6 separate regions of the Homo sapiens genome follow, and all the other regions are linked to region 5. Evidence: fine-mapped expression QTL. A gene starts in region 5. Each other region holds a variant in brackets. All regions are shown on one strand. Distances are between the middles of the regions.

Region 1 (5,000 bases), 39 kb before region 5:
AGAGGGCGGTGAGGCCACGTGCCAAGCCTGCAGCCTGGGTGACGAGGGTAGCAGCAAACCCTCCATCCTGTGACATGTCACCTACCTGCCCTGTGGGGGCCATGTCCATTTTGTGCCCACGTTTTAGGAGAGCGCGTTTTGGAGCAAACACTCAGAGACCTGTCCCCAAAGGCCATGGGCCAAACGTGGGTGGGGCCGGGCCCTCCGCTGGTCTTTGGGTTTGGAGGGTGAAGAGCCACTGAAAGGAAGGAAGGTCCCCAGGGAGGGCAAGTGTAGGCAGCAAGAGACCTTCCCCAGCAGAGGGCAGAGAGGAGGCCAAGCAGGACCAGGGGGCGTGACTGTGGAGACAGGCTCTTGGGTGCCGCCCTTCTGGGAGGTGCTGGACGCATCAGGCTGGCAGCGTCGGGGCCTGTCCATGGCTACGAGGTGTCCACCGGGCTGCGTTTTTCCAGGGGACTCTGGGGAGGATCTGCTTCCTCTTCCAGCTGCTCCAGGTGCCTACCTTCCTGGGCTTGGGGCCCCTCCCTCCATCTCCAGAGCCGGTGGGGTGGGGTCAGGATCACACCCTGTCTCTCCTGCTCCCTCTCCCCTGCGGTAACCCTGTGGCTTCGTCCCATCTGCCTCCCCGGCTAATCCAGGCCGACTTCCCTGGTTTAAGGTCAGCTGTTGGGCAGCCCCCATTTCCTCTGCTGCCTGGACTCGCCTCTGCATGTGAGCTTCTGCGTTCACAGATTCTGGGGACTGGGGTGCAGGCATCATTGGGGTCCATCGTTCTGCCAGCTGCAGGTGGAAGGTCGCTCTCCGGCCTCGCGACATCTGGCTGGAAGCATCCCAGAGGCTCCTCCTAGCTCGTGGTGCTGTGGGGTGGGCAATGGTCTTTTTTATTTATTTTTTTTGAGATGGAGTCTCACTCTGTCACCCAGGCTGGAGTGCAATGGCACGATCTGGGCTCACTGCAACCTCCGCCTCGCGGGTTCAAGCGATTCTCCCGCCTCGGCCTCCCGAGTAGCTGGGATTACAGGCGCCCACCATCATGCCTGGCTAATTTTTGTGTTTTTGTAGAGACAGGGGTTTTACCATGTTGGCCAGGCTGGTCTTGAACTCCTGACCTCAGGTGATCTGCCCACCTCGGCCGAGACTACAGGCATGAGCTACCGTGCTTGGCTTTTTTTTTTTTTTTCGAGTGGGGGTCTTGCTTGGTTGCCCAGGCTGGAGAGCAGTGGCATGATCATGGCTCACTGCAGCCTCCACCTCCTGGGCTCAAGCGATCCTCCTGCCTTAGCCTACCAAAGTGCTGAGATTACAGGTGTGAGTCACTGTGCCCAGCGCAGGCACTGATCTTGGATCATGGGTAGAATTCAGGGGTGCAGAGAGGCATTTTGGGAGGGGCCCAGTGCGGCCGAGTGCTGGGAGTCGCTGGGGCCCGAGGCCCAAACCCCTCCAGGATGCATGGCTGGGGTGGGTGGGCACCCCCACTCCCGGTCCCTATCCTGGGCCTCCCCTTTGCTCTGTGGAGCCGGTTCTGTCTGTTCCCAGGCCCCTGGCGTTTCGCCGTTTGTTCCGTAAATATTTCATGCCCAGGGCGCAATTGGAAACACTTTCCTTTAATCAGCAGTGGGGGAAGGCAGGCGCCCAGCCAGGCCAGGGGAGGAGCTGGGGTGGGAAGATTTGGAGAGGACCCGGGAGGACTTCCCTGCCTGAGCCTCGTCAGAGGCCCTTCAGAGACGGAGATGCTGCCCAGTTTTCCGGGAGGGAGAGAGGAAAGTGTGAGGCTTGCCCGAGCCGAGTGCCCGGGGCTTTATGATTTGTGCAGCTGCTGGGCTTGGCGTGGCCCTGGTGGAAGCTCTGACGCCATCTGAGCCTTGGTCCCCTTGTAGGCGTCAGCCTGATCCTTGGGGGGCTGGAGGTTGAGCTCAGACTGAACAGGGAGGAGAGGGGTAGGGGCTGGGGCTGGGGCAGAGGGAACAGACCCTGGTGCTCCAGGCAGGGCTGCAGGCAGAGCCACAGGGGGTGGCTCCCAGAGACCTGCTTGTCATTTAGGGACTCAGAAGCCCCATCCTGCCTTAGGATAAAACCCACCTCCAAGACTGACCCTGCTGTCTGGAGAGAGATCACCCCCCACCTCTTACCATGCCCCGTGCAGGGAGGCCCTGCCACCCTCTCCAGCTTCACTGGTCCCCCGGCTCTGCCAGCCTTGTGTAGTCTCCATCCTCTGTCTCAAAAGGCCCCTCTCGTGGCCCTACCCCGCAGCTCAGCCCTAGCTGTCGCTGGGTGGGCCTCATGGCTCAGCCTCAAGGCACCCTGGGTCCCTTGGCTGGTCCCATGCACACCCCATGGATCAGGTTCCAGGGGGCTCCCATGCACACCCCACGGATCAGACTCAGGGCAACTCCACACTCCCCACAGAACAATCAGGCCCAGCCCTTGTCCGGCAGGTGTGGGGATGGTGGCTATGGACCACGCATCAGGATGCTGCCGTGGTGGGGCCCCTCAGCCTTTGCAGGCCGTGCCGGGGTCCAAGGGCTCCGGCTCTGGGGGAGGTCCATGCTCTGTCAACCATCCGGTCTGCAATACCCTGGGGCCTCCCCGCCCCTTCCTGTTTCCTCCTGAGAGCCCTGCAAGCTGGAGGGGGAGCCCCGGCCCCTTTTTTTTTTTTTTTTTTTGAGACGGAGTCTTGTTCTGTTGCCCAGGCTGGAGTGCAGTGGCGCGATCTCAACTCACTGCAACCTCCGCCTCCTGGGTTTAAGTGAAAGTGATTCTCCTGCCTCAGCCTCCTGAGTAGCTGAGATTACAGGTGCCCATCACCACGCCTGGCTAATTTTTGTATTTTCAGTAGAAACAGGGTTTCACCATGTTGGCCAGGCTGGTCTCAAACTCCTGACCTGAGGTGATCCACCCACCTCGGCCTCCCAAAGGTGTGAACCACCACGCCAGGCCCCCTGCACCTTCTTCTGGGTGGGCAAGAGCCATGCTGAGCCCCTCCCCTGCCATGGATAGGGGTGGCAAGAATAGTCCATTCCCCATGGGCTCCCTCCGGCAGGCAGCGGATGGGTTGGGGCCCACACAGTGGTTCAG[G/T]AAAGGCTGAAGGGCGGTTGCCGGCCAGAGCTGGGCGGGTCCCTGGCCTGAGCCTCCTCTCACTCCCTTTCCCAGGATGGAAAGGCCACTGTGAGCTGGGTGTGTCCTGCCAGGAGGGAGTTGGAGTCGGGGGCAGGAGACCCACTGGGTCTCCTGGGCTCCTGGAAGAGGCAGCAGTGGGTCCCTGCGGAGGTGGCCTGATCCCCGGCTCAGCCTGGTTTTCCCAGCTTTGCATTTGGGGGTGGGACCTGCAGGGGGAGAGTGACGGGGTGGGCGGGGACAGGGGCTGCAGGTGGAGGCACGAGAAAGCCACCCGACCCCTTGAGGTCATGCTGTTTGCGTCGGAGAAGAGGGCCGGTGTCAGGGTGCCCCCTCGGCCTCTGTGTGCACCTCCCCGCTCCCCGCCCCGTGCAGGTCAGCAGAGCCTCGATCCCTCTGCACGTTCCGGCCCCCTCCCATCTCCAGCAGCGTCTCTTCCCGGGGTGCCCCTCGGACTCTCAGCTCCCTAGTCTGATCCAGCCCAGGCAGGGAGCGGGCGTGCCACGTGGCCAGGAGTGGCCTCCAGGCCCAGCTGCGGCCCCTTCGACCCTGCGGAGGGATCATGGCCCAGCTGTTCTAACATGGCCAGACCAGGACACTCTGGCCGGCCCGAGAACTGAACCGGGAAGGAGGCAGGGAAAGGGGAGGGAGGAAGACAATGGGGAAGCAGTGACATCCGAGATGTAGCCAGAGACGGACATCCTGGACTGTCGTGCAGGGCAAGGCGGGTGGGCGGGAGCCAGGTGGCCTGAGAGCCCCTCCCTGCCCAGGGGTCTCTGGTCAGGCAGTTCCTTCCCGGGCTGCTGGATCGTGTGTGCAGGGAACCCGTCAGCCTGGCTGCCCAAGGGCCCAGATGTCCTCTCAGTGCCCGGGGGTCCTTGACAGCCCCAGCAGGAGCCCCACGTGCCTGTGGGGCAGGCCCCGCAGGTCCCTCTCTGTAGGACTCAGAATACCTTCTCCAATGCCACGTGCTCTCCCTGAGTGCCCAGTGCCACAGAGGGCCCCGCTGGCGAGGTTACTTCAACGTCAGGCTAGAGGGTGCAGCGAGCAGGACTCACAGCCCAGGTTCCCAGGCAGGTGTGGCAGGAGCCCATTCCCTGGGTCGGTGTTCTCATGTCACCCCACGGTGACCCTGCTGTACAGAGGCGGGGGCGCGGGGCCCCTGGCTGGTGCCCTCCTGCTGCCAGACTTGTGCTCTGCTGAAGAGGGGCTGGCGCGGCAGGTATGAGCCCGGCACGGAGGTCGTGAGCAGTGAGAAGCCTGGCACCTATGGGTTCGGGGCAGGGAGGCCCTGGAAGGTCCTGTCCTCCGGGAGCCCTGCACAGCACCCCCTGGTGGTGGCTCCTGTTCGTGTCGGGGCTGCAGCCTCCCTTCCTGGACGGTTTTCCATTCCTCCTTCCCACTCTCCCTGCTGCTCACCCCTCCCATCCTCCACAGGTCAGAGGTCATAGCTGCAGGGTCAGCAGGTCAGGGCCTGGGGCAACCCTAGGAAGGTGTGAGTGTGAGAAGCTGGTCCAAACCTGCCTCGGCTGCCTGGTGGTGCGGACAGGGAGTCCTGGGCATCCGTGAGGGCTGCTTCACGGTCAGGCTTAGGGATGTGCAGGGTGACTTGGACGTGGGTCATGAGTCTTTGCTCCAGAAAGAGGGGGCTGAGTGTCCAAGGCCAATCCCGAGTCTGTCACCTAACACCATTTGTGCTCAAAAAACTGAACAGAGTGGACACAGGCCCTGAGTTTGCGCCCCGAGGCCGAGAGAGGGCAGATGTGGTGGTGACATTCACCACCTTGGACCCAGACCCAGATGCTACCTGTCCCTGAGCTCCAGGAAGTTGTGAGAAGGGCCTGAGCTGTTCTGCACTTTCTCGTGGCCGGGCGTGGCTGGTGGTG
Region 2 (5,102 bases), 42 kb after region 5:
CAGGCAGGACATGCTCAGCCCTGGCTGGGCTTCCCCTCCTTGCCCCAACACCAGTCAGGGCCCACCCACGGGCTCCAGCTGTCTGGCTTCCCATTCATCTCCCAGACCCTCTCCCCTCATGAATCAGTGCCACACACAGCCTACCCATACCATACTCAGCAAAGCACCCATGCCTGTGGCTCAGGTGCGGTGGTGTGATCAGAGCTCACTGAAGCTTTGAACTCCTGGGCTCAAGCGATCATCCTGCTTTAGCCTCTCTAGTAGCTGGGAGTACAGGTGTGCACCACTACGGCCAGCTAATTTTGAAAAAATTTTTTTGTAGGCTGGATGCGGTGGCTCATGTCTGTAATCCCAGCACTTTGGGAGGCCTAGGCGGGTGGATCACGAGGTCAGGAGATCGAGACCATGACCATCCTGGCTAACATGGTGAAACCCCGTCTCTACTAAAAATACAAAAAAATTAGCTGGGTGTGGTGGTACACACCTGGAGTCCCAACTACTTGGGAGGCTGAGGCAGGAGAATCACTTGAGCCTGGGAGGCGGAGGTTGCAGTGAGCCTGGGAGGCGGACGTTGCAGTGAGCCTGGGAGGCGGAGGTTGCAGTGAGCCGAGATTGCACCACTGCACTCCAGCCTGGGCAATGGAACAAGACTGTGTCTTAAAAAAAAAAAAAAAAAAAATTTTTTTTTTGTGGATATGGTGGAGTCTCGCTATGTTGCCCAGACTGGTCTTGAACTCCAGGCCTCAAGCAGTCCTCCCAAATCCCAAAGTGCTGCTGGGCTTACAGGCATGGACCACCATGCTTGGCCTATTTTCGACACACATACAGGCTGAGGTTCAGGAGAGCTGGGCTACAGGCGTCAGGGTGGGGATCGATGTGTGACATCTTTCAGGGAGGTAGTTTATCCTAGTTCTCCACTCAATAAGGGAGTCTGCCCACAAGCACACTGTCGGCACCCATTGCTACATGGCTCAACTGTGAGTATAACTTAGATAATTGTAATAATGAAAATAAGGAATGCTGATGGAGGGATAGGATAAGAAGGTATGTGACTGGGAGATGGAAGAGAATTCCTTATTTCTATTGAGTCATAATCAATAGAGGTTATCTAAAACTTAAAAAAATAGGGCCAGGCACAGTGGCTCACGCCTGCAATCGCAGCACTTTGGGAGGCTGAGGCGGGCGGATCACAAGGTCAGGAGATCGAGACCATCCTGGCTAACACAGTGAAACCCCGTCTCTACTAAAAATAACAAAAAAAAGTAGCCGGTCGTGGTGGTGGGCGCCTGTAGTCCCAGCTACTTGGGAGGCTGAGGCAGGAGAATGGCGTGAACGTGGGAGGCGGAGGTTGCAGTGAGCCGAGATCACGCCACTGCACTCCAGCCTGGGTGACAGACCGAGACTCTGTCTCAAAAAAAAAAAAAAAAATAATAATAATAAAAACGCCAGGCATGGTGGCTCACGCCTGTAATCCCAGTGCTTTGGGAGGCCGAGGCAGGCGTATCACTTGAGGCAAGGAGTCTGAGACCAGCCTGGCCAAACATGGCGAAACCCCGTCTCTACTAAAAATACAAAAATTTGCCGGGCCTGCTGGTGCACGCTTGTAATCCCAGCTACTTGGGAGGCTGAGGCATGAGAATCACTTGAAACCAGGAGGCAGAAGTTGCAGTGAGCTATGATTGCCCCCCTGCACTCCAGCCTGGGTGACACAGCGAGACTCTGTCTAAAAAAAAAAAAAAGAGCAGCCTGGGCAACACAGTAAGACCTCCATCTCTACAAAATAAAAAATAAAAATTAGTCAGGAGTGGTGGCACTTATCACAGCTACTTGGGAGGCTGAAGTGGGAGGATCACCTGAGCCCAGGAGGTTGAGGCTGCTGTGAGCTGATGGTGCCATCGCACTCCAGCCTGGACAACAGAGTGAGACCCTGTCTCTAAACAAAAATAAATTGTTTTTTTTTCTACTGGACTTAAACAATCTGCCCTCCTTGGCCTCCCAAAGCACCAAGCCTGTGTCTTCTTTTTCATCACAGCCGTGGCAGAAGGAAGGAGGTGACTGGAAGCCCCACTCTCTCTGAGTAGCTGAGGGAATACACCCTGACTATAGGCCGAGACAGTCCACATCAGCTCTTCAATAGGATTTAGTGGCTTTGCATAAAATGGAAAAGCAGCTGTGATTGCAAGAGAAATTAAAAATAACCACCATCTGAAATGCAAATTGAAAACAGTGAGACAACACATGTCACTCTGGCAGGTGACCCACTGTGCTGGTGAAGGCATGCAGGCACTCTCAGACTTCCGCAGAGAGACCTGAGTAATCAATTGACTTCCACAAAGGGCGACTTGCCAACAGCTATCAAAAGTACTCAGGCACATCCCACTTGGCCCAGCAATTCCACTTCCAGGAATTTCTCCTGCAGAAATACATGTGCACAAACAACGTAGGAAAGCACTGTTTATAGTAACAACCCAACTAGGACAGACCAGGTATATTTAGACAACAAACAAGGAAGCTTTTTACTAAATTGGGATGATCTCTAAGAAGAAGGTACGTAGAAAAAGCAAGGTGGGAGAACACGCTATGTGCTTGTACTATGCACGTCAATGAAAAAATACACAAAGAATTGACAGGCCAGGTGGAGTGGCTCACACCTAATCCCAGTACTTTGGAAGACTGAGATGGGAGGGTTCCCTGAGGCCAGGACTTCAAATCAGCCTGGGCAACATAGCAAGACCCCCCCACATCTCTACAAAAAAATTAAGAAAAAAATTAGCCGGGCATGGTGGTGTGTACCTGTAGTCCCAACTACTGAGGAAACTGAGGTGGGAAGATCCCTTGAGCCAGGAGGTCGAGGCTGCATGGAGCTTTGATCGTACCACTGCCCTCCAGCCTGAGCAACAGAGTGAGAAAAAAAACAGACTTTTTTTCTATTTCTGGAAAAAAATAAAGAATTTATAAGTATGATGGTTCTGGTAATAGAAGTAGGTGGCTAGGCAGAGTGGACACTTCACACTGCATACTCCCCTATTTTCCGAAATCTGAGTTTTTTTTTTTT[T/CTTTTTTT]TTTTTTTTTTTTTGAGATGGAGTCTTGCTCTGTCACCCTGGCTGGAGTACAGCAGCACCATCTCGGCTCACTGCAACTTCCGCCTCCTGAGTTCAAGCAATTGTCCTGCCTCAGCCTCCCCAGTAGCTGGGATTACAGGCGTGCACCACACGCCCACCTAATTATTGTATTTTTAGTAGAGACAGGGTTTCACCATGTTGGCCAGGCTGGTCTCAAACTCCTGACCTCGTGATCCGCCCACCTCGGCCTCCCAAAGTGCTGGGATTACAGGTGTGAGCCACCATGCCCAGCCAATCTGAGCTATTTAAAAACTAAAGGTAAAATTTTAAAAGGGGAAGGGGAAAATGGGAAGTCATTGTTTTAAGGGGACAGAGTTTCTGTTTGGGGTGAGAAAACTCTAGAAATAGTGGGGGCGTGGCACATGATTGGAATGAATGGCAGGGAACGGCACGCTTAAATGTTCCTGTACGTTTCACAGGAGAAGTCAATGCACACACAAGCGCCGCAACCCAGTCCAAGGCTTTGCTCCTACAGGGCCTTACAGGGGGTATTTGAGACGCCCACCTTAATGCAGGTTGGACCCAGCTCCGGGCTGCGGGGCTTCCCCGCCCCGGGGTCTTTCGTGTGAGCCCCGTGGCGGGGGATCCTGGCCCAGGACATGGCGCGGAGAAGGCTGTGGGCGGCGGGACAGGGTGCCTTCGGCTGCCGGGTTAAGAGTGGATCCCGGGATACATCCTCCAGCGCCTGCCCTCGGGCCTGTGTGCACCCCCATACCCAGCGGGGCCGTCCAAGAGCTTCAAGGAGGGCACAGCGCGACCCGCCCTCCCCTCAGCCCCGCACACCGTCCCACGGCCCCGCACAGCCTCCCTCCCACACAGCGCCCCACGGCACCCGCACAGCGCCCCACGGCCCCTTCATGGTCCCCGCACAGCGCCTCACAACCCGCACACAGCGCCTCACGGACCCTTTACGGCCCCCGCAGAGTCTCCCACACGGCGCCCCACACAGAGCCTCACGGACCCCGCACAGCGCCTCAAGGTCTCCGCACAGCCCCCAGCACAGCGCCTCACACAGCCCTTCGCACAGCCCCCCGCACAGCTCCTCACGGGCCCCACACAGCTGCCGCACAGCCCCGCACAAGCCCGCACAGCACCAGCAGACAGGTAGCCCCCACAGGCAACAGCGCCCACCTCGCCGCGCCCAGACCCCGGATCGCCGACGCGGACGCCAGGCGCCTGGGCACACGGCGCCTGCGCAGACAACACCACGCCCCAGGCCTGGCGAGCGCACCCTGCGGGTGGGGCGGACCTACGTCAGCAACCCATCGTCCGATCCCGTCCATTGGCTGAGAGGTAATGCGTGCGCCCGACTCGCCGCTGATTGGTCGGCGCGCGAGCAGCCGGGCTCGCACGGGCCAATCCTGTGGTAGCGCGTGAGGAGGCAGAGGCCTCTGGGGTGGGATCGCGGGCCGTAAGTGGCTGTGGAGCTGGGGTCACTGCGCGGTGGGACCATGGCCTCGGAGAAGCCGCTGGCGGCAGTCACTTGTACAGCGCCGGTCAACATCGCGGTCATCAAGTACTGTGAGTGCCGCGGGCCGGCCTGGGACGGGGATGGCCGGGAGCGAGGCCGGGTACGCGGGGGTCGCGCGCTGATTCGGCGGCGCGCTCCGTCCTGCCCTCCCAGGGCCTCGACAGACGGGGAAACTGAGGCTCAGGGAGGGGCGCGGCGGTGGTCGGGCGGGGCCGCGCGCTCCTTCGCGTGACAAGCTCGGCGCCACCCGTTCCCCCGCGACGGCTGCCGCCCCTGCAGGGTCGCCCGGCGCCTGCCCATTAGCGATTACCGAACTATCGAAATCATCAATCATCGATTCCCATGAATCGTAAGAATCCGCCGTGGTGGTGCGCGTTTGTGGCTCCAGCTACTCGGGAGGCTGAGGCGGGAGGATGGCCAGAGCCCGGGAGGTCGAGGCTGCAGTGAGCGGAAATCGCGCCACTGCTCCCCCAGCCCGAGACCCTGTGTCCCTCCCTCGCCCCGTTTCTCCCAGCG
Region 3 (5,102 bases), 96 kb after region 5:
CAACGGCAGGGAGACGTCACACCCACCAAGACGGCTGTCATCAACAAGACGGACCGCAGCAAGTGCAGACAAGGATGCAGAGAGATGGCGCCCTCCTATGCGGCTAGCGGGAATGTAAAAGGTGCAGCTGCTCTGCACAACAGTTTGAGGGTTTCTCAAACAGCTAAACATAGAGTGACCATGTGATCTAGCAATTCCACACTGAGGTATATGCTCAAGAAAAATGGAAACCTATGTCCACACAAAAACTTGCACACAAATTCACAACCACAACAGCCAAAAGCTGGAAACAACCCAACGTCCATCAACAGACGAACAGAGAAATGCAATGCGGTGCATCCATGGAGGAATAAAGCACTGACCCACGCTACAACGTGGACAAATGTTAAAAACGCTCGGAGTAGAAGAGGCCAGTTACAAAACGCTGTGTATTGCACACTTCCGTTTCTACAAAACGTTCTGAATGGGCAGATACCTAGAGACACAAAGCTGCTAAGAGACTGGGAAGTGTGGGGAAAATGGAGAGTGACTGCTGATGGGTACAATGTTTCTTCTTTTTATTTTGAGACAGAATCTTGCTCTATTACCCAGGCTAGAGTGCAGTGGTGCAATCTCAGCTCACTGCAACCTCAACCTTCTGGGCTTAAGTGATCCTCCCGTATTAGCCTCCCGAGTAGCTGGGACCACAGTGGTGCACTACCACGCCCTGCTAATATTTTGTATTTTTTTGTAGAGACGGGATTTTGCCATGTTGCCCAGGCTGATCTCAATTCCTGAGCTCAAGCAATCTGTCCATCCCGGCCGCCCAAAGTGCTGAGATTACAAGAGTGAGCCACCGTGCCCAGCCTAGATTTTTTTAAAACAATTTTTAATTTTTTTTTTTTTTTAGATACAGGGTCTCACTTTGTCATCCAGGCTGGAGTGCAGCCGTGCGATTGTAGCTCATGGCAGCCTCCAACACCTGGGCGATCCTGTAATCCTCCTGCCTTGGCCTCCCGAGTAGCTGGGACCACAGGCTCATGCCACCTCCCCCAGCTAATTTTTAATTTTTTTTTTTTTTTTTTAAATAGAGATGGAGTCTTGCTTTGCTACCCAGGCTGGTCTCAAACTCCTGGCTTCAAGCAATCCACCTGCCTCAGCCTCCCAAAGTGCAGGGTGCAAGTGTGAGCCACCGCAAGGTTTCACTTTAGGGGGCAAAAGTGCTCTCATGTTGATTGCGATGATGGCTGCACAACTCTGTGAATATTCTAGAAACCACTGATTGTACACTTTAAATGGGTATGTTGCAGCGTCCATTAATTATATTTCAATAAAGTTGTAAAAAACACCCACCAAAAACATCATCCAGTACTCTAATGTCCACTGACGCCCATCCATTCTGCTCTAACAGTCAAGTATATTTGAGAGAAAAAAAGGGCTGTCCTGAGCCCCAGCGCCTGCCTGTCTCATGGGTCTTGACTGTGCCCCCAGCAGTTGGCAGCAAGGATCATTCTGCACCCAAGGCACCCACTCCGCAAAGGAAAAACAGCAGCCCGCCCGGCCCTCCCCTGCATGCTGGCTGCTAGAGTGCCTCACCCTGGCCAGCAACACGGATGCCCCACAGCACCTGAGCCCAGTCCCAAGCTCTGGGGGCCAGGCATGCTTTGGAATTCAGAACTCTCCTGAGAACAGTAACATGGTGCCCAGGGTGTGAGTTACACACCGTGCGTGGTATACAAGGGCAGCGCCTATTAAAACACACCGATGTTTGCACGTGGACTGTAAGCATTTTCACATCAGTGAGATCCTCTAGAATGAGAACAGCCTCCCAGGAGCTCAGGGCAGATGTCACGGCCTTGGGAGTTTTACAGAAAGGCCCTGCGTTGGAGAGCTCTGGGTTTGGAACTATGGGCTCGGGCTGTGGGCCTGCACTGGTCCCCTGGGCTCCAGAGCTGTGGGCCACAGAGGGGAAGCGCAGGCCAGGGGGACTAGGTACAGAGCTGCATGCCGGACCTCCCCCACACCCCTGGGCTTCAGGAAGCAGGGTCTACCTTGGCGGCTGCGGGGAGCGGGGCTTGGGCTTCCCCTTCTCCTTCTCCCGCTCCTTCTCCCGGTCGCGGTCACGGTGCTGCCGGTCCTTCTCGTCCCGCTTGGCTCGCTCACGCTCCCACTCCTCCTTCCTCCGCTGCCGCTCCTTGTCGCGCTCGCGCTCCCGCTCTCGCTCGCGCTCCCTCTGCCGGCGCTCCCGCTCTCGGTCCCGCTCCCGCTC[CCGCTCG/G]CGCTCGCGCTGTCTGTTCTCTCTCTCTCGCTCCCGCTCCCTTTCCTTTGTTAAAAAGCCAAACACATGGGGACACCGTGCGTTATTTGGGTGACAGAGGCACTGAAAGCCTTGGCTCCAACACCACGCGATCTGTCTGTGTCACAGAATCACACCTGTACCCCACAAACCTACACACAAAACGCCAAGTGCTCCCGACTATGATTGAACTCTCTGCGGTGGAGTACAGAGGAGATGGCAAGAGAGAGGCAGGATCAGGGAGCACCCTCAAGTGGGGATCTCATCTCATTCCCAGCTCTCTCCTTAAAACACAATGTTAAAAACCGGGTCAGATGCCAAATTAGAGCAAACACAAACTAGGAGTGAAATCATCCCAACCACCAATTCTAGACTAACTCAGGGCAGCAATTCTGCAGTCACAGCCCGGTGTCGTTGGCACAGATGGCCTTCCGCCGTGTGGCCTGGGCAAGTCCATTTGTCCATCCAGAGACGGGAGTTCCAGGCTTGTCCCAGGTAGGTGCAGCCACAGCAGAGCACATGCCCTGCCTCTGGAGCAGAGCAGGCACCCAAAAGACTGCTCCTCTTCTTCTAGTACAATCCTCGGATGCCCTTTCCAACTTTTCCTCTGCTCTTACTCATTCATTTGCTCTAATATTCAAGGTTAAAACTGAATAAAGTCCAATCACAACGCACCTGATGGGTTTCAGGCTTGAGGCCTCTGTTGGGGAGATGCAGGGTGCACCCCGAGCCTCCCTGCTGCCCCTCCCTCGGACACAGCAGAGAGGAACGCAGTGGAAAGGGATCCCTGGGGCTTTCTCCCACCTTCCAGGGTACCCTGCCCAGGGGTAAGCAGCAGGACCCTGCAGCCCACCTGCAATGAGGAAGCTGCTTTATGGAGAGACGGGGCACAAGAGCATCGAGCAGGGGGACTTTTCTGGCACGATGGGGCCCTCTTCCCTCTGCAAGCTCACCCTGATGGGCTCCTGAGGAGACAGCCGCACCTGGTCCTCAAAGCTCATGACTGTCCCTGCAGTCACAGAACAGAACTACACAGCAGCTTCTAACTGACCCTTCCCTGGGGCAACTTCGTCAAATCACCCTAACAGCTAAGATGAGGAACTCACAGTCTGAAGCACATAACTCATCAATATGCTAAACTCTGAGGCTCAGACCAGGGAGATTTCCAGGGCGGAAATCTCAGTATAGACCAGTCTTCCATGAGAGCAGTGAGGTGCAGCAGGCCCGGAACAGACTTAACAAGCTGGCTGAAGTGGACCAGAACAGGCGCCACATCCTAAACGGGATCACTGAGGGGTGGGGAAGAGTGACACGCCCGAGCAGGGAGACGCAGGCACCCCTGGACACAGGCATCAGTAAGTATACTGGCAAATCTCATTTTCAAAACCAGGCCGAGCTGGGCACAGTGACTTATGCCTGTAATCCCAGCACTTTGGGAGGCTGAGATAGGCAGATCACCTGAGATCGGAAGTTTGAGACCAGCCTGACCAACACGGCAAAACCCTGTCTCTACTAAAAATACAAAAAATTAGCCAGGTGTGATGGTGGGCACCTGTAATCCCAGCTACTCAGGAGGCTGAGGCAGGAGAATTGCTTGAATCTGGGAGGCAGAGGTTGCAGTGAGGTGAGATCACGCCACTGAACTCCAGCCTGGGTGACAGAGTTAAACTCCGTCTCCAAAACAAACAACCCAGGCCGGGCGCAGTGGCTCATGTCTTTAATCCCAGCACTCTGGGAGGCTAAAGCAGGCGGATTGCTTGAGCTCAGGAGTTCAAAACCAGCCTGGACAACATGGTAAAACCCCGTCTCTACAAAAAAAATACAAAAAAATTAGCTGGGCATGGTGGTGCATGCGTGTGGTCCCAGCTACTCGGGAGGCTGAGGATGGAGAATCATTTGAACCCAGGAGGTAGAGGTTGCAGTGAGCCGAGATTGCACCGCTGCACTCCAGCCTGGGTGACAGAGTGGGACCCTATCTCAAAAAACAAACAAACAAACACCACACAAAAAAACAAAACCATAGCAAGAACCAGTTTTCAGGCAAGTCTTTGTTCAAATGACCATTAATGTAATCGCTGCCTCTGAATTCGTTCTCCGTAACAATCAATTTGGTTTTCAAATTGGTACATTGTGCTGGCTCTATAAGCTCATATAAAGCCCTGTATTTTTTACTGTAAATAAAAAGGGATAACTTGAATGAACAGATCATGAAGTTCATATGTGGATATTGAAGTCATACTTACTCGGTAATTATGATACGGCTCTGTTTCTGTATACTGCACCCTGAAATTCTCATACTGTCCGCCACGCCAAAACCGCTCAATTTCATAGTCATAATAAGGGTCTGCGTAAGGCTCGAGTCTGAAAAGGGCCAATGAAAAAGAACTCTCATCACTTAGGAGCACTGGCGTAAAAAGACCACACGAAACATTAGGGACAGAAAGTAACAGACCGTGACGCAGTGGGGTTTACTCCAGGAGCGCAAGGTTGGCTCAAGGTTAGGAAATCTGTTCACAAACTACATCTAAGAGCAGGCCAGAAGTCAAAGGGTTCTATTCACAGATGATAAAAATGTCTAACAAAAATTCAATAGCCTTTTTGATAAAAAATACTCAAGAAAATAGGAAGTGAGGGCCAGGTGTGGTGGCTCATGCCTGTAATCCCAGCACCGTGGGAGGCCGAGGCAGGTGGATCACCTGAGGTCAGGAGTTTGAGAGCAGCCTGACCAACATGGAGAAACCCCTTCTCTACTAAAAATACAAAATTAGTTGGGCGTGGTGGCACATGCCTGTAATCCCAGCTACTCAGGAGGCTGAGGCAGGAGAATCAC
Region 4 (5,102 bases), 170 kb after region 5:
GTGTTGAGGGGGTGAGGCTGCCTCCTCCCAATCTTCCTCCCTCCCCCTCTGCAAGGCCCCGGCAGATACAGGGCAGGCCAGAGTGCAACGGCTTTGCTGCCTCCTGGCGTCCTGAGGCTCTGCCTGAGACTCCAAAGCTGGGCTCTCCCGAGGGGTCGGCTTGCGGGGGACAGGTGGGGACCGGTTTTCAGAGCAGACCCATCCGACGGTTGCCAGCTCACGCAGCCCCCCAGCCACAGGTGATGTCCTGCTCTGCATGTTGGTGTCCTGGTGTGGGAGACAGGGCCGGCAGTGGGGGCCCTCTCCACTCCCACCCTTCCTCAGGCAGGCTGGGGTGGGCTTCTGCTAGGCCTGAGCTTTCTGTAAGCCAGGGCGTGGCTGGGAGCCAGTGCCCAGCAGTACGGCTGGTGGTCGAGAACCGAGTGCTGGAAGCCAGCAGAGGGATGTGTCCTGGCCCAGCTGTGCCCGCCAGGTGCCTGGGCAGGAGGTGTGTCCCGATGGAACCTTGGGGCCCTCGTGCACAGTCAGGGCACTCAGCCCATGGTGTGGCTGAGAGGACAGACCCTGTGCCTGGCAGAGGAAGGGGCCTCAGGAGGGCGAGGCTGCCCTGCATCATCTCGTGGACGTTGTGTCCCAAGTAGCGTGAGGGACTCCCGGCAGGCTGGGCTGACCCTGCCTGGGAGTTGCCAGCCTGCAAGGGGCTTTGAGCTGTATGCAGCTCAGGTAGAAGGGAGCAGGTGCCCTCCTGGAAGAAGGAGGGTGGAGGCGGGAGGCCCATCCTGTGCAGGGCAGGGGACGGGTACAGCCTGGCTGGGTGGCCCTGAGGGGGACCTTTTAAGCCAGTCTTGAGGAGAGAAGGAGTTTCACAGGCAAAGCTGGGGGGAGTGGGGAGGGGGGAGGAGTGGGGAGAGAGCAGCTTGGAATGCAGCGGTCCGAGATCCAAGAAGCTCAGGTCACACATGGGACTCAGTGGACAGTGTGATTGGAGAGTGGGCTGTGACGGTGGCCGTGTGCCATGAGTGGACAGTGTGGCTGGAAAGTGGGCTGTGACAGTTGGACTGACTGCTGGGCATGGGGAGGGGCTGGCTGTGGTCCACACACACCCCTGTGACTTCAACAGATGCAGACCCCTCCTCTGTGTCGGCCACTTGTGGGTGCCTGGGAGGCAGAGGTCAAGCAGGCGCAGCCCCAGCTTTCAAAGGAGACAGGCCAGTAGGCGACGGGCAAGAGGACAGAGATGCAGAGTGACCGTTCCTACGTGGGAGTGAGCTGGGGACAGAGGTGCAGAGTGACCATTCCTACACGGGAGCGAGCTGGGGACAGAGGTGCAGAGTGACCGTTCCTACGCGGGAAGTGAGCCAGGGACAGGTCTGAGGGGGCACCTAAGCTGAGAGCTGGATGACAAGGACAGCCTCGGAGGAGTAGAGAGGGCATCAGGAGGCACTGCCTGGAGCAACCAGCTGCAGCATGGAGCCCAGCGGGTGGTGGGCTTAGCAGGGCCAGGGGCTGCCGTCGGGACAGGCCGCCAACGGGAGGCTCCTCTCCTCTGTGCTGAGGCAGAGAAGGGGGACTTCTGACCTCTGAAGGATGGGGCCAGTAACAGAAGGGGTTTTACGCGAAGCACAGGCACCTGGGGGCGGGGACGGGCCTCAGAGCAGGGTGAGCCTGGGAGAGGGGAGCGGTGGCAGCTGTGTGAGGAGTGGACCCTCGAGATTTGGAAGCGGCTGTTCAGAGAGACTCAAGGGTGAAGTCCCAGGTCTGGGAGTCGGCGATGGTGGATGGGTTTGGGAAGCGGTGGGATTTGGACAAATCAAGCATTGCTTTGACAATGAAGGGTGAATAGGCAAGGCTGATGCTCTCCAGCTTGAGGGGCAGGGGGCCACTGAGGATGCCTATGCAGGTGAGGGGAGGAGACAGGTGGGCTGGTGGGGAGACAGGTGGGCTCGGGGTGATGCCTGTGCAGGTGAGGGGAGGAGACAGTGAGCCAGGGGGGTGCTTGCACTGGTGTGGGGAGACAGGTGGGCTTGGGGGAGGGGAACACCTGCACAGGTGTGGGCAGAAGTTACAGGTGCGTGGGGTTACAGTCACTCATGGTACATCAAGGGCCTGGAAGGACACAGGGGCTGTAGGTCTGCAGGTCTGGGGCTCAGGGGAGGCGTGGCTAGACTACAGAATTAGTGGAGAGAAGACCATGAGCCCACCCCAGGAGTGTGGAGGGAGAACTTCAAGGGGAGACCAGGGCAGACTCAGAGCCTTGAACCTGGCTCAGCAGAGAACCAGCTGGGGGGCCGAGGGGGTGTCTGTGAGCAGGGCAGGCAGCTTCCTGGGGAGAGGCGGGAGAAGGCCTGGGCCACCACCGAGTCAGCGGCTACAGGGGAGGCACAGGGTGGAGGCCCAGGCGGTGGTCTGGTGGGGGGAGACTGGGGTGATGGCTTGAGGGAGTAGGGGTGACTGATGGCGTCTGCCAGGTGTGGGGGCCCCAGGGTCTGTGCAGAAGACGCGTGCCCGAGGCGAGTCCTGGGTGCGATGGGGACGGGCTCTGGCCACACGCCAATGACCTGGGACGGGCGATGGCAGCGGTACCCAGCCCTGCATGGTGGGGACAGTAGGGGGTTATGCAAGCCAGGACAGGCGCAGGGCCCTTCGTGAGGCTCAGTGTGCTGCCCTAAGCTTCGAGTCCGGGCCGTGG[C/T]GGGGCCCTCTGGGGTGACTTCAGGTCTGGGTCCCGGTCACAGGGTCCTTGCTGCCTCTGAGATGAGCCCCCAGGAAGGGTTGCCAGGCCCGAACTCCCACTCCTGCGGCACAGGTGTGGACACTGAGGCACGTCTGGGTGCATGGCGGGTTTGTGCGGCACTGCTGGGCTGTCTTCCAGATTCTCCTCTGCGTCTTGCATTCCAGGGCCTCGCTTGGTCAGGTTTGGGGTGGGGCTCAAAGGGGGTGAGGACACTGGAGTTGTGTTTTTTACCCCCTTTGAGCACCTGTCACTCACCAGAGACTGTATTCGTAGTTTCTAGACACCTTTAAACAGTTTACTTTTAAATGTACACACAGTGACAACCCCCCACCAGGTTTCTATTTTTTAGAACATCTTGTACCCTGCGCCCGCACCTGGGGAGGACTTGGGGGCAGAGCCTCCTGAACCCTCCACGCAAATTCATGCACAACAATGCAAATGATGAGCAGACTTGAGGGGTCCGTGCCTCCCGTCCCCGCTATCACCTGGTCTTCAACAGAAGGGGTGTCTGTGAGGAAAAGGCTGCTTGCCTTCCCTGGAGCTCAGGTCCCTGGGAGGGGGTGGAAGCCATGTCTGTCCATTGGCCTTGGCTACGGGCCCCATCTGGCCAGACCCTAGTGGGCAGGTGGACAAAGACATCAGAGACCACTGAAAGCGCTGCAGACCCAGGCCCACGAGCTGCGGGCAGGAGAGCGAGCCCTGGACTGGCTGGGAAGTGCCTCGGGCTTCTGAGGCAAGAGGCCGCTGCCTTCTTTGCCTGCACTCACCAGGGCTGCTGGGCAAAGCTGAAAAAAATGCAGCTAGTTCAAGTAGAGTTGGAAATGGGCTGGGAATGGTAGCTCGCGCCTGTCATCCTAATGTTCTGGGAGGCTGAGGCTGCAGGAGCACTGGAGGTCAGGAGTTTGAGACCATCTTGGGCAACACAGGAAGACCCTGTCTCTATAAAAATGTTTTAAAAGTTAGCCAGGTGTGGTGGGTCAAGCCTGTAGTCCCAGCTACTTGGGAGGCTGAGGCAGGAAGATGGTTTCAGCTCAGGAGTTTGAGGCTGCAGTGACTTATGATCGTGCCACTGAACTTCAGCCTGGGGAACCGAACAAGACCTTAGCTCTAAAAAATATAGGGTTGCCCAGCCTGGGCAACATAGGGAGACACCATTTCTACAAAAAACACAAAAACTAGCTGGGCATGGTGGTGTACACCTGTAGCCCCAGCTACTGAGGAAACTGAGGTGGGAAGATCACTTGAGCTCACGAGGTCAAGGCTGCAATGAGCCGTGAGTATCCCAGGGACTCCAGCCTGGGCAAGAGAGTGAGACCCAAAAATAAAAAAATAAAGTGACGTTGGGAATAGAAGAGTGTTTTTGTTCTCCAGTGAGAAAGCACGCTGGAGGCTGCCCACAGCCACCCAGCTGCAAACGGCACGGTGACACCGTGGCTGAACGCGGTCAGCCAAGTACTCCCTCAGTGTGGCCGGCCCATACAGCCCAGCAGGGCAGGGAAGACGGGGGGTGGGGGTGCCCTGACCCTTGCACCGACTCAGCCACCACAGGTGACTCCACCACACGGTTGTCCTCAGCCCTGGCTCTGAGGGAGAGATGCACCCACCAGTGAGCATCAGGACCCCCTCGAGGCCAGGGAATGCTTCGGCCTCGGTCTCCCTCTCCTGTCCACCTACTCGCCTGTTCTTCCCCCAGCCTTGGCCACCACAGGGCTTCATCCTCCCCAGGGCGCCCCCACCCCTGCCATCCCTGGTGGTCTGTGACTGGATGGGGGACATCGGACCCCCAGGACCATGCAGGGTTGGGGGATGGCCAGCCAGGTCAGTGCCCCTCTCTTCCGTGTCTGGCGGCCAAGTAGACCGTGGAGAGGGTCAGCAGTGTGGAGGCTGCTCTCCCTAGGGGGGTATGGACAGGGCTGGGGTGGGGTAGGCCCAGAGCGGCTGGCCCTGCAGTGGTTCAGTGTGTGCTGTGGCCTCCGACCTGACGCTCGGTCTAGCTCTTAGCACCCAGTGGTGTAACTCCGGCAGGGGCCCAGCCACTCCGGGCCGCAGTGGCCTGTGTACACAGCAGGGCTGGATGTGACACTGGCTGCGTGTGCCTGCTGGCTCAGAGAACTAGGCTGGCCCACCACCATGCTCATCAAACTGAACTTCTTTATTAAGTGCCAAGGGTCCAGGCGGGCGCTGCCCCCTGCGGCCCCCTCCGCCGAGGCCTGTGCGTGGCGGGGTTCCCAGGAGCGGCAGTCCGTGCGGCCTGGGGGCGGCCCCCTCCCCGCATCGCAGCGGGGCGTGCAAAGCGTCTGCGGCTGTAGTGTGGGCGCTCACTTCACGTGCTCGGCGGCGTGCGAGGAGCAGTAATACTTCTTGTGGGCGA
Region 5 (5,102 bases):
TCCTCGATTCATGTGATCCTTCTGCCTCAGCCACCCAGGTAGATAGGACTACAGGTTACAGATATATGCCACCATGCCTAGCTAATTGTTGTATTTTTTGTAGAGACAAGGTCTCACTTTGTTGCCCAGACTGGTCTCAAACTCCTGGCCTTAAGTGACCCTCCTGCCTGGGCCTCCCAGAGTGCTGAGATTCCAGGTATGAGCCACTGCGCCCAGCTGTAATCTTTGTTCATAATAAACTTTCCAGCCATCTGACTCTGGCTCACTACGTCAGGGGTTCTTGGCCCTGGCTGTATGTTAGAATTGCACAAACCAATTAAGTCAAATTGTCTAGGGGTGAGGCCTAGGAGTCTGCATTTTAAAGCTCTCCTGCAATCCTGGCAGGCAGGGTGAAGAGCAGCACCCGGTACAGAGCGGACAATGCCACTGCAAGAGTCACCCTGCACCTGGGGCTCTAAGTCTCTTCCTTCCTGTCAGACACACTTGATGTGCACAGCAGTCCCTCCCTACGTTGAATGGATACCACGTACAAGAGGCCGAATGACCCCCCTGTGGTTCCTTTACAGACAGTAAAGCAAGTCTGTGTTTAACAGCAAGATGCCAGGTGAGGGACTGCAGGTAACTGGCAAGTATCAAGGCTGGGACATGGGAAGTGACCCCCAGGACCCAGCTTTGGGCGTGGGGAGTCTCATACAAGGAGACACAGGTGCTGGGCTTCACCTCCGCACTGTGGACCAGGAGAGCCTCTGCGCCCTACACCACCAGCTGGGATTCAAGCGTGGTGGGTCCACGTGTACATGCTGCGTCTGGGCTCCTGAAACCACGCTGTCCCCTGTGGGTCAGGGAAGGCCAAGGTTTCTCCCACGTGCTGACCTGAATGATCCCTGGGGATCCCAGCTCGATGTAGATTCCTAAGGCCTTCCCCTAGAGAGCCGGCTCCCCACTGTTCCTTGGGACCAGCAAGCACAGCAAAAGCCCTTCTGGCCACAAGGGCCTAGCATACAGCCACAGCAGCCTCTCCTCAGTGAATTCTGCCGGCAGCCTGGTGTTCTTGGCAATTTCAGATGCTCCTGGGTGGTTAAAGAAGTACCTATCTTGGCCAGGTGTGGTGGCTCATGCCTGTAATCCCAGCACTTTGGGAGGCCGAGGCAGGTGGATCACTTGAGGTCAGGAGTTCGAAACCAGCCTGGCCAACATGGTGAAACCCTGTCTCTACTAAAAATACAAAAACAATTGGCCGGGCATGATGGCAGGCACCTGTAATCCCAGCTACTCAGGAGGCTGAGGCAGGAGAATCACTTGAACCCAGGAGGTAAAGGTTGCAGTGAGCTGGGATCATGCACTCCAGCTGTTGCACTCCAGCCTGGGTGACAGAGGGAGACTCCATCTCAAAAAAAACAACAACAACAACAAAAAAACCACGCACCACCACTGGGAATTAAGAGGGCTAAAAGGAGAGAGACCTGGTCCTCCCTTCAGGGAGCTATGAGTCTAGTGGAAACAACTGAACAATACAATGGCTACAAGCCAAGAAAGACATGACAAGCGCCTGGGGGAAAGCTAGAGGTCTTCCAAGCCTCTATCCTGCCACAGATGAAACAAGCATCTCACACGAGATTAAAAACTTTCACCCAGACCATCTGCCAAGTTCCCAAGATGCTCTGATCCGCCCCTAGATGTATTCCAGCTGCCCCCAAACGCCTGGTCCTCCTACAGCTTATCCCAGTCTAGACACCACGGCCCCACTTCCAACTGTCCCCATAAGTTCCATCAGAAACCTCATCAGGGGATCTGTGGCTAGCTCATGGGAAACTTTCCCAAGCAGGAAACCAATGCTTTCGCCTCCACTTCAACACCAGGGGCACGAGGGACCCCATCAGGAGCAGGAATAAAGTAAGTACATGTTTTTAAAAAGAATTAACAAAGCATCACAAGTTGCGGCTATCCTGTCTGCTAGCGAGGCCATGTTTGCCAGGGTCTCAGCCACCTCCAGGCCTCACCTGCAGAAGGCATCTCCGGCTCGTATCACCACAACGGGCTGCGCTTCCTTGCACTTCACACACTTCTGCTCACGGCTTTGGAGATGGGAGGGGGGAGAAGAGAGAAACACAGATCACATCTTCCCCACGCCTAGTGGGCTTTGGGGAGACAGCTCCTGTTTCTCACCCTGAGTTGGGTCAGAGAAAGGCACCTCGGTACACACACAAACCCAGGCTTGTGTTCTGTCCAAACTTCAAGAAAAACAAAGGCTCTGGGGGGATGTTTAGCCTAGAAAAGCCGGCTCAGGGGGCACATAAAGGCCGCTTTTCAGTCTCCCAAGGCTGACACGGGGAGGCGAGACAGCTTCACGGCACCAGTTCTCTCCGAATAAGGACAGCACTGTCAGCGGCAGAGCCGTCCCCAGTGGCTGCTAGGATGAGAGGCGCGAGCCAGTGGAGTAAGTCCCCTTCTAGGTGGCCGTCACCGCTTGACAGGCATTCCCCGAGTGCTAGGGAGCGAGGTCCCGCTCTCCACGCGGGGCTTCCCGGAGCAAGCCCGGCCGGGACCCTTCGGGGCAGGAGTGCGGCGGGAAGGCGAGGGGCGGCCTGGCGGGTCCGGCCGCCAGCTCTTACCTGGGCCGCGGCGCCGGGGGCGGCTCCTCAGGCGCCGGCTCCCCGTAGTCCTCGCCCACCTGACACATGGGCACGCCGGGTCCCGTCGCAGACTGTGGCGGCGACAGCGCGAGGGCGCGCCCCGATGACGTCGGAGTGGCGCCGTGACGGCCGCGAAGCCCGGCTGGGGGCGGCGCCCTACGATGACGTCAGCGCGGCGCAGTAGCGGCTGTGACTAGCGGGCCGGCCCGGGCCAGGACAGCGGGCGGCGGGCGGCGCGGGCCTGGCCCCGGGATGGCTATGTTCCGCAGCCTGGTGGCCTCGGCTCAGCAGCGGCAGCCGCCGGCCGGGCCGGCGGGCGGCGACAGCGGCCTGGAGGCGCAGTACACCTGCCCCATCTGCCTGGAGGTCTATCACCGGCCCGTGGCCATCGGCAGCTGCGGCCACACGTGAGCGCGCCCGCCCAGGGGCCGCGGGGAGGGGGCCGTGCCCCGCCGCGGGAGGGGTCGCGAGGCCGGCGGCCGCCCCGGTGCAGCTCCGGACTGGGCGCGCGGGGACTCGGGGCGCCGGGGCCTCGGGGCGCGTGGGGTCCGGGTTTCCCTGTGCCGCGCCGCCTCTGCCCTCTGGGCGCGTTCATCCCCCGCCCAGCCTCCTTCGCGCCAGCCGCAGGCGCCCGGTCCGACTGCTGCTTCGGTTCACCGGGCGACCTGCGGCCCTGCCCAAGCTCGGGGTCCCCGGCGGCTGCGGCGGGCGCTCCGGTACTCAGAGGGCAGCAGGTGCCACCGCTCCGCCAGTGGTGGTGGATTTGGGCTTGTGCGGCTGGAATGGGCAGTTGTAAATAAATAACTTGTAGTTTTTGCTATCAACTCTTGTTCGGACCCGCTGTCTGCCTGTTTTGACTACAGAGGAAAGGAGTTCCCTAAAGTTTAGAGGGGCTTGTTTGGAGTCTGATGTTCTTAGTTTTGTTTGAAGGAGAACTTGAGTCACACCGATCACTGAGTAGCCAGGCAGGCTGGTCCACAGAGGAGCAGACACTGACCACCTTGCTGGGGTTTCCAGCTGCACCAGGGCTCACAGCCGGCTCCTCCAGGGTGTTTCAGGAACAGAAACTGGAGGACGTGGCTCTCCTGGCGGGGAGCTGTGCTCAAGTATTCTGGAGCTGCCAGCCCCGTTGGGAGGAAGCCTAGATCAGTGTCTGCTCCCTCCTAAGTGCTGAATAATACAGCTCTTGAGCAAAATCAGCAGTGGCAGGGGAGAGAGAGAGCAGGAGGGCTTCCCCGCAGACATCCAAGCTGCTGAGGTGGTGGAGTGGAGGGGGGTGCACCCAGACTGGTAGGAGGCTCTAGAACATTTTGCAAGCAAAGTCAGCTGACTTCAGGGGCTCCTGGTACAGAGGGAGCTGGGACTGCTAGGTGGATGTGTGCTGGTCACCCACGGAGGTGGCAGGGCCAGTGTCAGGATGCAGAGCTGCCTTCATTACCTGTGTCAGGCAGCACAGGCGCCTGCCCACGCTGGGACAGCTCTACCTACTTCTCTTGTGAGGCTGCTACAGGCTCTGCCCCTGCTCCTCCATCTCACTTAGCCGTGACATTTTGGGGGGGCAGCCTCTGAACGGGAATATTTTTTTTTGAGACAGAGTCTTGCTCTTGTCACCCAGCCTGGAGTGCAGTGGCGCCATCTCGGCTCACCGCAACCTCCATCTCCTGGGTTCAAGTGATCCTCCTGCCTCAGCCTCCAGAGTAGCTGGGATTACAGGCACCCGCCACCACGCCCGGCTAATTGCTGTATTTTTAGTAGACAAGGGGTTTCACCATGTTGGCCAGGCTGGTCTCGAACTCCTGACCTCCGGTGACCTGCCCGTCTCAGCCTCCCAAAGTGCTGGGATGACAGGCGTGAGCCACCGCGCCTGGCAGGACTTCCTTCTTGTGAGCAGGTAGCGGGTGTTTGAAGGTGTGTTCCGCACCTTCTCATCTGTTACTGAGCGCTGTGAGGCTTGACTTAGGCCTTGTTTTAGAAAAGCCTCCCGTAGGCTTTGGGTGCCAACACCTTCACCGTGTGGTCGGCCACAGCATCTCCACTTTCCTAACCTGCACAAATTGGTCTTTGCCCTTCTTTTTCAAATATGTCTTTTCCTAAAATGTAGTTTCCATAACACAGAATGCAGAACCACATGGAATTGTGGAGCATCTTTCCTATAAAACTCCCCTCTGCCATGCTTTTCTTGGTAGAATGACGACCATCCTAGTCTCACCGCGGGTCCTGCAAGAGCTTTTCACACAGCCTTTGCCTTTCAAAGATTTTTCTCCCCGACTTTTCCTGCTGGCTTTTGTTTTCTGGCTGTTCTCTCTCTGCTTCTAACTTTGTTTCTTGTTGGTGTTGCTAAGGCATGCATGCAAATGACCACAGAAAGTTTAAAGGCTCTTCAGGTTCCCTTCGGAAGTTTGTTGCTGGTCTGGTTCTGTCCCCTCCGCAAGCTCCCCAACCAGAGCAACTTCCTCCTCCAGGGTAGAT
Region 6 (5,000 bases), 24 kb before region 5:
AACTCAGCTTCCCATCTGGGGTGGGGTCGCTCTGGCCTGCCCAGCTGGCCTCCCCAAGCCCAGCCCCACGTGCCCACTGCCCTCCCCAAGCCCAGCCCCACGTGCCCACTGCCCTCAGGTGTCGGTGATGAACCTGCTGCTGGTGGTGCTGTGGGCCTTCGCCCTGCCCTACCCACGCTTCCGGCCCATGGCCTCCTGCCTGTCCACCGTGTGGACCTGCGTCATCATCGTGTGTAAGATGCTGTACCAGCTCAAGGTTGTCAACCCCCAGGAGTATTCCAGCAACTGCACCGAGGTACCGGCCCCCGAGGGCTGGGACGGGAGGAAGCTCCAGGCAACTCTGTATTCGCAGCCCGACCCTCCTGGGGCAGCTGCCTCAGTGCAGTGGGGCCAGCAATGGAGATGGAGGACTCTCCCCTGGGGGCGCCAAGGGGGCTTCCTGGAGGCAGCATCCTTCGACCTCAACTGTGGACCAGGGGCGCACTCCCTGCACACAAGGGTGTCCAGTAGGGGCGGAGTCCCAGGGTCTCCGGCAGTGAGGACGGGAGGGCCCCACCCCTGGACAGGGAGAGACAGTCAGGCATCTCTGCCTGGGACCTTCTCGCACATCCCTCCTTCTCCCTGGACCTCTCTTCACTCCCCCAGCCCCTGCCCGTGGTCTCCCTGTTTCTCAAACACCTGGTCCCCTTCCCCGTGAAGGTGGCTCCAAGGCTGGCAGCCCCCGTGTCCCTGGCTGGGGAGCAGTGGACCTGCCCCAGAGCTGTGGCTGTGGTGGGCTCCGGGCAGGGCCAGGGGGCACTGTGGCCTGGGAGGGGGCACTGATGCCTGGCCTCTTGCCAGCCCTTCCCCAACAGCACCAACTTGCTGCCCACGGAGATCAGCCAGTCCCTGCTGTACCGGGGGCCCGTGGACCCTGCCAACTGGTTTGGGGTGCGGAAAGGGTTCCCCAACCTGGGCTACATCCAGGTGAGTTGAAGGGCTGGTGGGCGGCTGGGCGGGCGAGTACCCGGCTGCCCCCTGACCCTTGCCCTCCGCAGAACCACCTGCAAGTGCTGCTGCTGCTGGTATTCGAGGCCATCGTGTACCGGCGCCAGGAGCACTACCGCCGGCAGCACCAGCTGGCCCCGCTGCCTGCCCAGGCCGTGTTTGCCAGCGGCACCCGCCAGCAGCTGGACCAGGATCTGCTCGGCTGCCTCAAGTACTTCATCAACTTCTTCTTCTACAAATTCGGGCTGGAGGTGAGGCAAGGACATTGCCTCCCCCTGGGGCAGGGCTTGGCCTTCGGGAGGGAGGGACGGCTGCACCGTGCAGGCACCGCAAGCCTGGCCCCACCTGGGTTTGCCTGGGCCACAGAGGGTGGGGGACTCAGGGCCAGGCACGGCTTCCCTGGACTCCTGTGGTGTGTCGGTGCTGACAACAGGCAGGGGGCCAAGTTAGATCTGCTCTACTGTACAGCCCACCTCCTGGAGCCTCAGTTTCCCCTGCACGATGGCAACTGCCAGCCACTCCTGCCCTCTTGACAGCGCCGCTGGCCCTGTCCTTGCTTGATGCCCGCAGCCTCCAGGCAGGGCTGCTGCAAGCCTGAGGCCTGCTGGGTGGGACAAGAAAGTCCCTCCCCCCAGACTCAGTGCATCCCCACACCCCGCCCTCTCCCCTCCCCAGATCTGCTTCCTGATGGCCGTGAACGTGATCGGGCAGCGCATGAACTTTCTGGTGACCCTGCACGGTTGCTGGCTGGTGGCCATCCTCACCCGCAGGCACCGCCAGGCCATTGCCCGCCTCTGGCCCAACTACTGCCTCTTCCTGGCGCTGTTCCTGCTGTACCAGTACCTGCTGTGCCTGGGGATGCCCCCGGCCCTGTGCATTGGTGAGGGGCACGTGGCTTGGGTGGGAGTGGGCTTTGTGGCTTTGTGGATGCCCGTGGGGGTGTTTCCCGCCTGCCCCAGACTCCTGTCCACCCTCCTAGACTTAGCCTTGGCCTCCTCCAGTCCCTCCTCTCTGCTCCACATCCTACCCAGGCGCCATCACCTGCATCCTGTCTCTCGGGGGCGGCCTGGCCCCCTCCAGGCTCTGCTGTTCTCTTTTCCTTTTTTGCCCAGTATTCTATCTTGAAATATTTCAAACCTTCAGGAAAGTTGTGAGTCACACAAGGAGCACTGCGTCCTCTCCGGGCCCCGTGCGGGTCGGCCGTGATGCCTCACACCCAAGTGCTGCCTCGAGCATGCGTCTCCTGGGTGAGGGTGTCTGAGCCCACAGCCCCACACCCGTGGTCCCGTCTCCTGGCAGTGCCATCGTCAAACGTGTCCTCTGCATTCAAACAGCCCCGGCCTCAGCACCCTTCTTTGTGGCCATTTGGTTTTCAGACGGGATCTGGTCTGATGTTTGCTCTAGTCTCTTGTCTTGGGTCTAAGC[C/T]GCCCCCGCCTCTCCTGTCTCTTGGGAAGTTCCGGAGGGAGGCCGGTAGCGTTGCTGACGCCGTGAGACTGGATTTGCGTGGCTGTCCTGGTGCTGCAGGTCTGCTCAAGGCACACAGCACCCTGCGGTCTGAGATGGGGAGTCACATTTGTGCACGTGGCCGGCTCAGGGGCGTCCCACCTGCCCCACAGTGGCACCCAGCCTGTTGGCACTGGTGGGCTGTGTGGGGTCAGCCTTGTGGTTTTACGAAACAGACTTTCTCTCTGCTGTCTCTGTGTGTCTGTCAGCTGGGATTCCCATCAAGGACAGCTGCCATTTGTTACTGGCTGCTTTCCAAGAATTCTGTCATCCGCAGACCCTGGGCCTCCCCTCTGCTGAGTGGGTCCTGGCCCCTCCGGCCACACACTGTTACATCATCTCCCCGTATTTGGCTGGGCATGGTGGTTCACGCCTGTGATGCCAGCACTTTGGGAGGCTGAGGCAGGAGCATCCCTTGAGGCCAGGAGTTTGAAACCACTCTGGTCAACATAGCAAGAACCCTTTTTTTTTTTTTTTTTTTTTTTGAGATGGAGTCTTGCTCTGTCACCCAGGCTGGAGTACACTGGCACAATCTCGGCTCACTGCAGCCTCCGCCTCCCGGGTTCAAGCAATTCTCCTGTCTCAGCCTCCCTCGTGGCTAGGATTACAGGCAAGCACCACCAGGCCCGGCTAATTTTTGTATTTTTAGTAGAGACGGGGTTTCACCATCTTGGCCAGGCTGGTCTTGAACTCCTGACCTCAGGTGATCCACCCGCCTCCCAAATTACAGGCCTCCCTCCTGGGATTACAGGCGTGAGCTGCCACGCCCGGCCCCGTCTTGTTTTCTGCTCCCAGGCGCTGCTGCCTCATCTTCTGCTACCCAGGCCCAGCCTTGTGCTCACAGCCATTGCTCCAGGGAGCCCAATCGAGTTCTAGGAGCGTGAGGTTTAGAGCCCGGGGTCTGGGCGCTGGGTGTGCCTGTTGCTACAGGGCTGCCTCAGCCTCTGGGCCCTCCAGCTCTTCCTTGTTGAAACATCTGCTTTCGAGCATCACCGAGGCCAGCTCCCCGTCTCCTGTCCACCTCTTCCTTGTTGAAATACCTGCTATCAAGCGTCACCTAGGCCAGCTCCCCTTCTTCTGCCTCCTTCCACGCGGCTGCGCCATGCAGTCGCCATCCTGTGAGATCAGCATGTCCTGGGTTCCCCAACATCGAGGGTAACTTTGTTTTTGTATCGTGAGGTTCCCTCTGTGGCAGATGGGGCTGTGGGTTCAGCATGTCCTGGGTTCCCCAGCATCGAGGGTCACTTTGTTTTTGGGTCGCGAGGTTCCCTCTGTGGCAGATGGGGCTGTGGGTTCAGCATGTCCTGGGTTCCCCAGCATCGAGGGTCACTTTGTTTTTGTGTCGCGAGGTTCCCTCTGTGGCAGATGGGGCTGTGGGTTCAGCATGTCCTGGGTTCCCCAGCATCGAGGGTCACTTTGTTTTTGGGTCGCGAGGTTCCCTCTGTGGCAGATGGGGGCTGTGGGTTCAGAATGTCCTGGGTTCCCCAGCATCGAGGGTCACTTTGTTTTTGGGTCACGAGGTTCCCTCTGTGGCAGATGGGGCTGTGGGTTCAGCATGTCCTGGGTTCCCCAGCATCGAGGGTCACTTTGTTTTTGTGTCGCGAGGTTCCCTCTGTGGCAGATGGGGCTGTGAGATCAGCATGTCCTGGGTTCCCCAACATCGAGGGTCACTTTGTTTTTGGGTCGCGAGGTTCCCTCTGTGGCAGATGGGGCTGTGGGTTCAGCATGTCCTGGGTTCCCCAGCATCGAGGGTCACTTTGTTTTTGGGTCGCGAGGTTCCCTCTGTGGCAGATGGGGCTGTGGGTTCAGCATGTCCTGGGTTCCCCAGCATCGAGGGTCACTTTGTTTTTGGGTCGCGAGGTTCCCTCTGTGGCAGATGGGGCTGTGGGTTCAGAATGTCCTGGGTTCCCCAGCATCGAGGGTCACTTTGTTTTTGGGTCGCGAGGTTCCCTCTGTGGCAGATGGGGCTGTGGGTTCAGCATGTCCTGGGTTCCCCAGCATCGAGGGTCACTTTGTTTTTGGGTCACGAGGTTCCCTCTGTGGCAGATGGGGCTGTGGGTTCAGCATGTCCTGGGTTCCCCAACATCGAGGGTCACTTTGTTTTTGGGTCGCGAGGTTCCCTCTGTGGCAGATGGGGCTGTGAGTTCAGCATGTCCTGGGTTCCCCAGCATGGAGGGTCACTTTGTTTTTGTGTCGCAAGGTTCCCTCTGTGGCAGATGGGGCTGTGAGTTCAGCATGTCCTGGGTTCCCCAGCATGGAGGGTCACTTTGTTTTTGTGTCGCGAGGTTCCCTCTGTGGCAGATGGGGCTGTGAGTTCAGCATGTCCTGGGTTCCCCAGCATGGAGGGTCACTTTGTTTTTGTGTCGCGAGGTTCCCTCTGTGGCAGATGGGGCTGTGAGTTCAGAATGTCCTGGGTTCCCCAGCATCGAGGGTCACTTTGTTTTTGTGTCGCGAGGTTCCCTCTGTGGCAGATGGGGCTGTGAGATCAGCATGTCCTGGGTTCCCCAACA

What was found.
Region 1: its variant is fine-mapped to the expression of RNF166 in whole blood (INTERVAL, PIP above 0.99).
Region 2: its variant is fine-mapped to the expression of RNF166 in whole blood (INTERVAL, PIP above 0.99).
Region 3: its variant is fine-mapped to the expression of RNF166 in whole blood (INTERVAL, PIP 0.97).
Region 4: its variant is fine-mapped to the expression of RNF166 in whole blood (INTERVAL, PIP above 0.99).
Region 6: its variant is fine-mapped to the expression of RNF166 in subcutaneous fat (FUSION, PIP 0.95).

The regions. Positions count from the first base shown.
Region 1 is chr16:88,743,412-88,748,411 of GRCh38, reverse strand. All of the region lies in intron 2 of PIEZO1 (piezo type mechanosensitive ion channel component 1 (Er blood group)), which reads left to right. It overlaps PIEZO1-AS1 (PIEZO1 antisense RNA 1), which reads right to left. Exons shown (of 3, transcript NR_120387.1): 1 at 4,922-5,000; 2 at 4,068-4,820; 3 at 2,664-3,323. Among named protein-coding and RNA genes, the nearest start is that of PIEZO1-AS1, 3.1 kb to the right of the region's middle. RefSeq lists a silencer at 2,785-2,844 and an enhancer at 3,862-4,548. The variant G/T (reference allele first, on the strand shown) is at 3,076.
Region 2 is chr16:88,662,545-88,667,646 of GRCh38, reverse strand. It overlaps MVD (mevalonate diphosphate decarboxylase), which reads left to right and starts at 4,556. Exons shown (of 10, transcript NM_002461.3): 1 at 4,556-4,636. The coding sequence starts at 4,567. It overlaps SNAI3-AS1 (SNAI3 antisense RNA 1), which reads right to left and starts at 4,274. Exons shown (of 4, transcript NR_024399.1): 1 at 4,247-4,274. RefSeq lists silencers at 3,892-4,051, 4,392-4,811 and an enhancer at 4,262-4,311. The variant T/CTTTTTTT (reference allele first, on the strand shown) is at 3,056.
Region 3 is chr16:88,608,465-88,613,566 of GRCh38, reverse strand. ZC3H18 (zinc finger CCCH-type containing 18) reads right to left here. Exons shown (of 18, transcript NM_144604.4): 7 at 4,516-4,633; 8 at 2,031-2,299. Among named protein-coding and RNA genes, the nearest start is that of IL17C, 28 kb to the left of the region's middle. RefSeq lists an enhancer at 2,477-3,422. The variant CCGCTCG/G (reference allele first, on the strand shown) is at 2,249.
Region 4 is chr16:88,534,927-88,540,028 of GRCh38, reverse strand. ZFPM1 (zinc finger protein, FOG family member 1) reads right to left here. Exons shown (of 10, transcript NM_153813.3): 10 at 2,998-5,102. The coding sequence ends at 5,050. Among named protein-coding and RNA genes, the nearest start is that of ZFPM1-AS1, 6.4 kb to the right of the region's middle. RefSeq lists an enhancer at 1-335. The variant C/T (reference allele first, on the strand shown) is at 2,690.
Region 5 is chr16:88,704,109-88,709,210 of GRCh38, reverse strand. It overlaps RNF166 (ring finger protein 166), which reads left to right and starts at 2,803. Exons shown (of 6, transcript NM_178841.4): 1 at 2,803-3,040. The coding sequence starts at 2,886. It overlaps CTU2 (cytosolic thiouridylase subunit 2), which reads right to left and starts at 2,708. Exons shown (of 15, transcript NM_001012759.3): 1 at 2,613-2,708; 2 at 2,001-2,075. The coding sequence starts at 2,680. RefSeq lists silencers at 2,440-2,749, 2,790-3,069 and an enhancer at 2,691-3,328.
Region 6 is chr16:88,728,573-88,733,572 of GRCh38, reverse strand. It overlaps PIEZO1 (piezo type mechanosensitive ion channel component 1 (Er blood group)), which reads left to right. Exons shown (of 51, transcript NM_001142864.4): 19 at 119-295; 20 at 841-966; 21 at 1,038-1,238; 22 at 1,663-1,867. It overlaps HSALR1 (HSP90AB1 associated lncRNA 1), which reads right to left and starts at 2,393. Exons shown (of 3, transcript NR_103774.1): 1 at 2,125-2,393. The variant C/T (reference allele first, on the strand shown) is at 2,413.